2 linked regions of the Homo sapiens genome follow. The protein of the gene in region 1 purifies or fractionates together with the protein of each later gene. This does not show direct contact. Each region holds a gene or a part of one and is shown on either strand. Other genes may lie near its edges.

Region 1 (3,847 bases):
TCCTACATACCTTGCAGCAATTATTACAGTGGAATTTTTTTTGAGACAGGTCTCAGGACTTGCTGTCACCCAGGCTGGAATGCAGTGGCTCACTCATAGCTTACTGCAGCCCCAACATCCTGGGCTCAAACAGTCCCCCTGCCTTACCCTCCAGAGTAGCTAGGACTACAGGCATGTGCCACCATACCCAGCTAATTAAAAAATTTTTTTCTTTGGGAGGCCGAGGTGGGTGGATTGCCCGAGCTCAGGAGTTCGAGATCAGCCTGGGCAACATGGCGAAACGCTGTCTCTACTAAAAATACAAAAGACTAGCCGGGCGTGGTGGTGTGCACCTGTAATCTCAGCTACTCGGGACACTGAGGCACAAGAATCACTTGAACCTGGAAGGCGGAGGTTGCAGTGAGCCGAGGTCTCACCACTGCACTCCAGCCTGGGCAACAGAGCGAGACTCTGTCTCAAAAAAAAAAAAAAATTTTTTTTTTGTAAAGACAAGATCTCACTATGTCGACCAGGCTTATCTCAAACTCCTGCCCTCAAGTGATCCTCCTCGGCCTCCCAAAGTGTTAGGATTTACAGGTGTGAGCCACTGTGCCCTGCCTAGAATGATGTTCTAATGGTAATTTTTCTTTTCCTCACTTTTTTTGCATTTAATAATTGGAATTCTTCTGTAAGGAAGAGCTGTTCCTTCTCTCCGATTGATTTATTTATTTGGTTATGTCTGAAATAGACTCATGGATATTTTTATTCTTTGGGCTATATTTTAAAGGATTACTTATTTCTCTGCTTTTATTTATTTTTTTAAATTTGAGACAGGGTCTTGCTCTGTCTCCCGGGCTGGAGTGCAGTGGCACAGTCGTACCTCACAGTAGCTTTGATCTCCTGGGCTCAAGTGATCCTCCAGCCTCAGCCTCCCAAGTAGTTGAGACTTTAGGCATGTGCCACCGCGTCTGACCAATTTTTAAATTTTTGGTAGAGATGAGGTCTTGCCCACACTGGTCTCAAACTCCTGAGCTCAAGTGATCCTCCTGCCTCAGACTCCTACTTTTTTTCTTTCAGTTTTAATTTTTTATATAGCATTTTAAAAACTTAAGGAAATTTTCAGTTACCCGAAGGTGGAGAGAACTGTATGATGAGTCCCATGTTTCATCTATTTTTACTAGTTATCAACATTTGGACAGACTGTTTTATTTATTCCAGCCTCCTGCCTTTTTTGTTACCGGTGTTTTAAAAAATTATTATTTACTATTTATTATTATTTATTTGAGACATTCTTGCTTTGTTGCCCAGGCTGGAGTGCTGTGGCAAGATCATGGCTCACTGCAGCCTCCACCTCCTGCGTTCAAGTGACTCTCCCACCTCAGCCTCCCAAGTAGCTAGGACTACAGGTGTGCCACCATGTCCAGCTAGTTTCTGTATTTTTAGTAAAGACAGGGTTTTGCCATGTTGCTCAGGCTGGTCTCAAACTCCTGAGCTCAAACAATCTACCTGCCTCGGTCTCTCATAGTGTTGGGATTACAAGTGTGAGCCACTGGGCCTGGCCTTGCTGGAGTGTTTAAAGCAAATCCCTAATATCTTATTATTTCATACCCAAGTCCCTATCATGACATCGTTTTTTAATTGAAAACTTAAACATTTTATATTATACAAGGAGAATTAGCACATGGTGGTGGGGGAATAAATAAATAAGGAAAAAGACAATAAGAATAATCTGTGTTTCTACTGCCCAGATATAATCAGCGTTAAAATTTCATGTTATCTTTTCAAGCTTTTTTGGTTATAAATAAGCATATAAAGCAAATTTTGGGGTGGAAAAAAATTTCTTGTGTTTTTATTTAAATGCCTACTGAATCCATTCTGTGGATGAACTGAACTACTCAGCCCTTCCATCTGCCTGGATGCTGAAGATGCTTTCCATTCTTTGCTCAAAGCTGGGCAGCTCTGAGCTGCTGGTGCCTTCAAGCTGTTTGCCTGAGTGGCAGGTCATCCTGCAGGGCCACACCGTTGGGTCAGAGGCCACGGCTTCTGAAGATCTGTTGCCTCACAGTGAGCACTATGTGCCTGTCACCTGAGCATGGCAGCTGCTGCTCTAGTAACCAGGCACTGATTCAGTTTCCCCAAAGCAGTGGTAGCTAAGAGAATTTTTCTTTCGGAAGAGTTTCAGCTGTGGCAGGGGAGTCCCGTGCCCTTCCCAACGCCCCTGTTTTTGTCACCTTCCTAGGCTTGGAGAACCCCCTGCCTGAGCGTCCCCGGGAAAAAGAAGAACCAGTGGTTCGAGAGACAGGTGAGGTGGTCGACTGCCACCTCAGTGACATGCTGCAGCAGCTGCACAGTGTCAATGCCTCCAAGCCCTCGGAGCGTGGGCTGGTCAGGCAAGGTGGGTACTGCGGGGCCCTGGGCGGGGCAGGATTGCTTGGGGCATCTGGAAAAGGCAGGAGGAGGCTTGGCCAACAAAGCACTGGTGACTTGTTCAGGCCCTGTCTGCATAGGACCATTGGTTTCCCCATTTCCTGATATCCAAGGCCCTGCTTCCGTGGCTCCTGCCGCCTTTTCTGATCCGTCTTTTTTACTCTAGCACCTCGATGTGCCACCTTCATACGCTGTTTCTTTTGCTCAGTAAGTTCCTATTGTATCTTCAAGACCCTTGAAATAACAGACCCAGATGTACTGCAGCCTCAGGGCTTTCTCCCTGGTCCTGGCACGAAAGCACTTCTTCCAGACACCACATGGCTCACACTGTGGCCTCCTTCAAGTGTCTGCTCCAGTGTCAGCTCTGTGAGCATCTCCCTGGCCCCTCTGCTGGTGCTTCTCATCCTCTTGCCCACTGCATAGTTCTCCATAACACTTCTCACCCAACATAGTCCAACATGTCCTTCTTTGTTTATTGGATTTAAATTAAGGGGTTTGTTGCATGCACTGAACGTAACATTTTGATGTGTTTGCAACTGGCTTCTGTCTTCACAGTTTCTTAATTACTCCAAACTGGAAAACTAGATGCCTCTGACTCTTACCATGATAGAAGTCACTGATATTTTGCCCATACTTAAATTGATTAGTCTTTGCCCCTACAACCACAGTGTAAGCTCCGTGGAGGCTGGGGTTTTGTCTGTTGCTCACTGAACCTGCAACAGTGCCTGGCACGGTAGGCCTTCAGTAAATGGGTCAGTGGAATGAAGGAGTGAGTGGAACTTGGTGCGCTGTGCTGAGACTTTCTCTGCAGAGATATCTGTGCTGCTGCTTGTCTGAGCCTGCTGGCAGCAGAGGCCCTGCTTTGCTCTTCTCTGGGGCCCTAGGCCTCTCAACTGAGCCCAGGTGGGGTGCCCAGCAGGCTTCCCTGTTCCCTGGTGTGGGCCACATGTGTGGAGCAGAGGGGAAGAGGCTGGTCCTGACCAACTAACTGTCTGTCTGTTTCTGTCTCAGAGGAGGCTGAGGATCCTGCCTGCATCCCCATCTTCTGGGTCAGCAAGTGGGTGGACTATTCGGACAAGTACGGCCTTGGTAGGTTTCTTCCAGAACAGGTGGGTGACTCAGGCACAGCCAGGTGACCTTTTCAGTTGTTACAGACTCTGGCCTTTTTGAGCTCCCAGGTACTGTTCTCAGTGCCCTCCTCTCTCCATCCCAGGCCTCCCAGTTCCAGCTCCCAGTGCTCCCTGACTCCCCAGCTTTTTTTTTTTCCAGAGACAGGGTCCTGCTCTGTAGCCCAGGCTGGAGTGCAGTGGCACAATCATGGCTCACTGCAGCCTCAAACTCCCAGGCCCCTAAGTAGCTGTGACTACAGGCGTGCACCATTATGCTCAGCTAATTTTTAAAATATTTTGTAGAGATGGGGTCTCATTACGTTGCCCAGGCT
Region 2 (3,500 bases), on another chromosome or scaffold:
AGTATTACTTCTATGGTGAGGTTATTGTTCATTTTATAATATTAGGTTATAAGACCTGTATTTACAACCATTAGTTATTTTAAGAAAACATGAAAATGCTAAACATTTCTAGACTTAATATTGTTTTCTTTTTCACCTGAGAAGCTGTGGTGTGCTGTTGGAGTCAATTTATCTGGTGGGAAGACCAGAGATGGTGGTTCTGTTGTTGGAGCAAGTGTATTTTACAAGGATGTTGCTGGTTTGGATACAGAAGGCAGTAAACAGCGAAGTGCCTCTCAGAGTAGTTTAGATAAGTTAGATCAGGAACTTAAGGTAAGTGTGTGTACTAACATTTGACCTGGTTTATGAGACTATGAGTTTAACTCTTTCATCCAAAATTTGCCTCTGGGTCCAGCTTCTAATTGGGATTACTATGCCCTGGCTTACTGTCCCTCAGCACCCTTTTAAAATCAATTTTAAAATATTGAGGTATAATTTACATGCAATAAAGTGTGCACTCGAAATGGGTATAGGTCAGAGTTTTGACACATGTGTACACGTATGTAATCACTACAGTGATCAAGCTAATGGAACATTTTATCATTGTTCTGCTTTACCTGTTAGTTTTGTGTTGCTGTTTAGAGACAGAGTCTCACTCTATCACATAGGCTGGAGTGCAGTGGCATGATCATGGCTCACTGCAGTGTTAACCTCCTGGACTCAAGTGATCTGTCCACTTCAGCCACCCAAGTAGCTGGGACTACACACCCACACCACCACACCTGGCTAATTTTATTTTTTGTAGAGACGAGGGTTTCACTGTGTTGACCAGGCTAGTCTCACACTTCTGGCCTCAAGCAGTCCTCCCACCTCAGCCTCCCAAAGTGCTGGGATTACAGACGTGAGCCACTGTGCCAGCCTAACTGCTAGTTTTTCATCTACTAATTAATATTGATAGGTGGTTGTATTAGTCTATATTCACACTGCTGATAAACACATACCCGAGACTGGGAAGGAAAAAAGAGGTTTAATTGGGCTTACATAGGTAACCTCTGGGGAGGCCTCAGAATCATGACAGGAGATGAAAGGCACTTCTTACATGGTGGCAGCAAGAGAAAATGAGGAAGAAGCAAAAGTGTAAACCCCTAATAAACCCATCAGATCTCGTGAGACTTATTCACTATCACGAGAATAGCATGGGAAAGACTGGCCCCCATGATTAAATTACCTCCCCCTGGGTCCCTCTCACAACATGTGGGAATTCGGGGAGATACAATTCAAGTTGAGTTTTGGGTAGGGACGCAGCCAAACCACATCAGTGGTTGTATTTTTACCCTTCCAAATAATCTGGAAATAAATTTGAAATAGTATTGCCTTTTACTGTAACAGCACCACCTTATGAATATTTGTACATACATATTGTTTTAAACATTTTTCCTCCTTTGCCTATACAGGAACAGCAGAAGGAGTTAAAAAATCAAGAAGAATTATCCAGTCTAGTTTGGATCTGTACCAGCACTCATTCGGCTACAAAAGTTCTTATTATTGATGCTGTTCAACCTGGCAACATCCTAGACAGTTTCACTGTTTGCAACTCTCATGTTCTGTGCATTGCAAGTGTGCCAGGTAAGAGTGAGTCATGCGTTTCTCTGCCCTCCCCTCCATCCACCTACCTGCTGGGCACTGATGTAGCAGCTGAAGATGCAGTTCTGCACCTTGCTGTCATGAAGCTTATGTTCTAGTTAGGGAAGATTAAAAAACAAACTGGAAACCATTGAATAAAGAAGATATTTTCAGGTAGTGAAAAATACTGTGAAGAAAATAAAACAATGGGAATATGAGAAAATAACTGGGAGCCAGAGGACTGTTTGGATTAATTAATAAGGAAAGGTCTTCTAAAGTTTTGGATTAAACATTATGTGATGTTAAAACATTAGTTTAAAAATTAAAGAAGTGTATGTGATATATCCATATGTTGGAATATTATTCAGCCATAAAAAGGAATGAAGTTCTTTTTTATATTTTATTGTGGAATACTTAATATGAGTTCTACTTTTTTTTTTTTTTTTTTTTTGAGACAGAGTCTTACTCTGTCACCCAGGCTGGAGTGCAATGGCATGATCTCGGCTCACTGCAACCTCCACCTTCCAGGTTCAAGTGATTCTCCTGCCTCAGCCTCCCGAGTAGCTGGAATTACAGGCACCTGCCACCACGCCCGGCTAATTGTTTGCATTTTTACTAGAGACGGGGTTTTACCATGTTGGTCAGGCTAGTCTTTTTTTTTTTTTTTTTTTGAGATGGAGTCTTACTCTGTCACTCACACTGGAGTGCAGTGGCACCGTCTCGGCTTACTGCAACCTCTACCTCCTGGGTTCAAGTGATTCTTTTGCCTTAGCCTCCCAAGTAGCTGGGACTACAGGCACGAGCCACTACACCCGGCTAATTTTTGTATTTTTGGTAGAAATGGGGTGTCACCATATTGGCCAGGTTGGTCTCGAACTCCTAGACCTCGTGATCTGCCCGCCTCGGTCTCCCAAAGTGCTGAGATTACAGGTGTGACCCACCACCCCGGGCAGTCAGATTAGTCTTGAACTCCTGACCTCAGGTGATCCACCCGCTTCGTCCTCCCGAAGTACTGGGATTACAGGCATGAGCCACTGAACCCAGCCTGAGATCTACCCTCTTAACACATTTTTGTTTTTGTTTTTTTGAGACAGGGCCTCACTCTGTTGCCCAGGCTGGATTGCAGTGGTGCAGTCACAACTCATTGTACTCATTGCAGCCATGACCTTCCGGGCTCAAGTGATCCTCCCAGCTCAGCCTCCCAAGTAGCTGGGACCACAGGCGCACACTACCACACCTGGCTAAGTTGTTTGTACTTTTTGTAGGCAGGGTTTCACCATGTTGCCCAGGCTGGTCTGGAACTCCTGGGCTCAAGTGATCTGCCTGCCTTGGCCTCCCGAAGTATTGGGATGCCCAGCCCTCTTAACAAATTTTTAAGAGTACAATACATTATCCTCTAGGTAGAAGTTCTGACACATGTTATAACACAGATGAACCTTGGAAACACTATGCCAAAGGAAATAAGTCGGACACAAAAGGACAAATATTATATGATTCCGCTTATATGAGATATCTAGAATAGGCACATTCATAAAAACATAGAGTTTCTGTGTGAGGTGATGGAAAAGCTTTAGAAATAGGCCGGCCATGGAGGTTCACACTCATAATCCCAGCACTTTCAGAGGCCAAGGTGGGACGATCACTTGAGCCCAGAAGTTTGAGACCAGTCTGGGCAATATAGTGAGACCTCATTCCACAAAAAATCAAAAAATGAGGCGGGAGGATAACTTGAGTCGGGGAGGTCAAGACTGCAGTGAGCTACGATTGCACCACTACACACCCACCTGGGCAATGGGAGTAAGACCCTGTGTTTTAAAAAAAAAAAAAAAAAAAAAAAAAAAAAGACCTGGCATGGTGGCTTACACCTGTAATCCAGACACTTTGGGAGGCTGAGGTGG

Evidence for each region. The genes of interacting proteins can lie anywhere in the genome.
Region 2: the proteins of PLK1 (region 1) and SPAG9 purify together in Homo sapiens (affinity purification with mass spectrometry; 8 studies listed by BioGRID and IntAct, with this or other methods). This does not show direct contact.

Annotation. Positions count from the first base shown.
Region 1 is NC_000016.10:23,685,251-23,689,097, forward strand, and holds part of PLK1 (serine/threonine-protein kinase PLK1), read left to right. Parts: intron 1-2,218; coding exon 2,219-2,374; intron 2,375-3,417; coding exon 3,418-3,495; intron 3,496-3,847. UniProt on the Homo sapiens protein: Serine/threonine-protein kinase that performs several important functions throughout M phase of the cell cycle, including the regulation of centrosome maturation and spindle assembly, the removal of cohesins from chromosome arms, the inactivation of anaphase-promoting complex/cyclosome (APC/C) inhibitors, and the regulation of mitotic exit and cytokinesis.
Region 2 is NC_000017.11:50,991,869-50,995,368, reverse strand, and holds part of SPAG9 (C-Jun-amino-terminal kinase-interacting protein 4), read left to right. Parts: intron 1-144; coding exon 145-312; intron 313-1,433; coding exon 1,434-1,605; intron 1,606-3,500. UniProt on the Homo sapiens protein: The JNK-interacting protein (JIP) group of scaffold proteins selectively mediates JNK signaling by aggregating specific components of the MAPK cascade to form a functional JNK signaling module.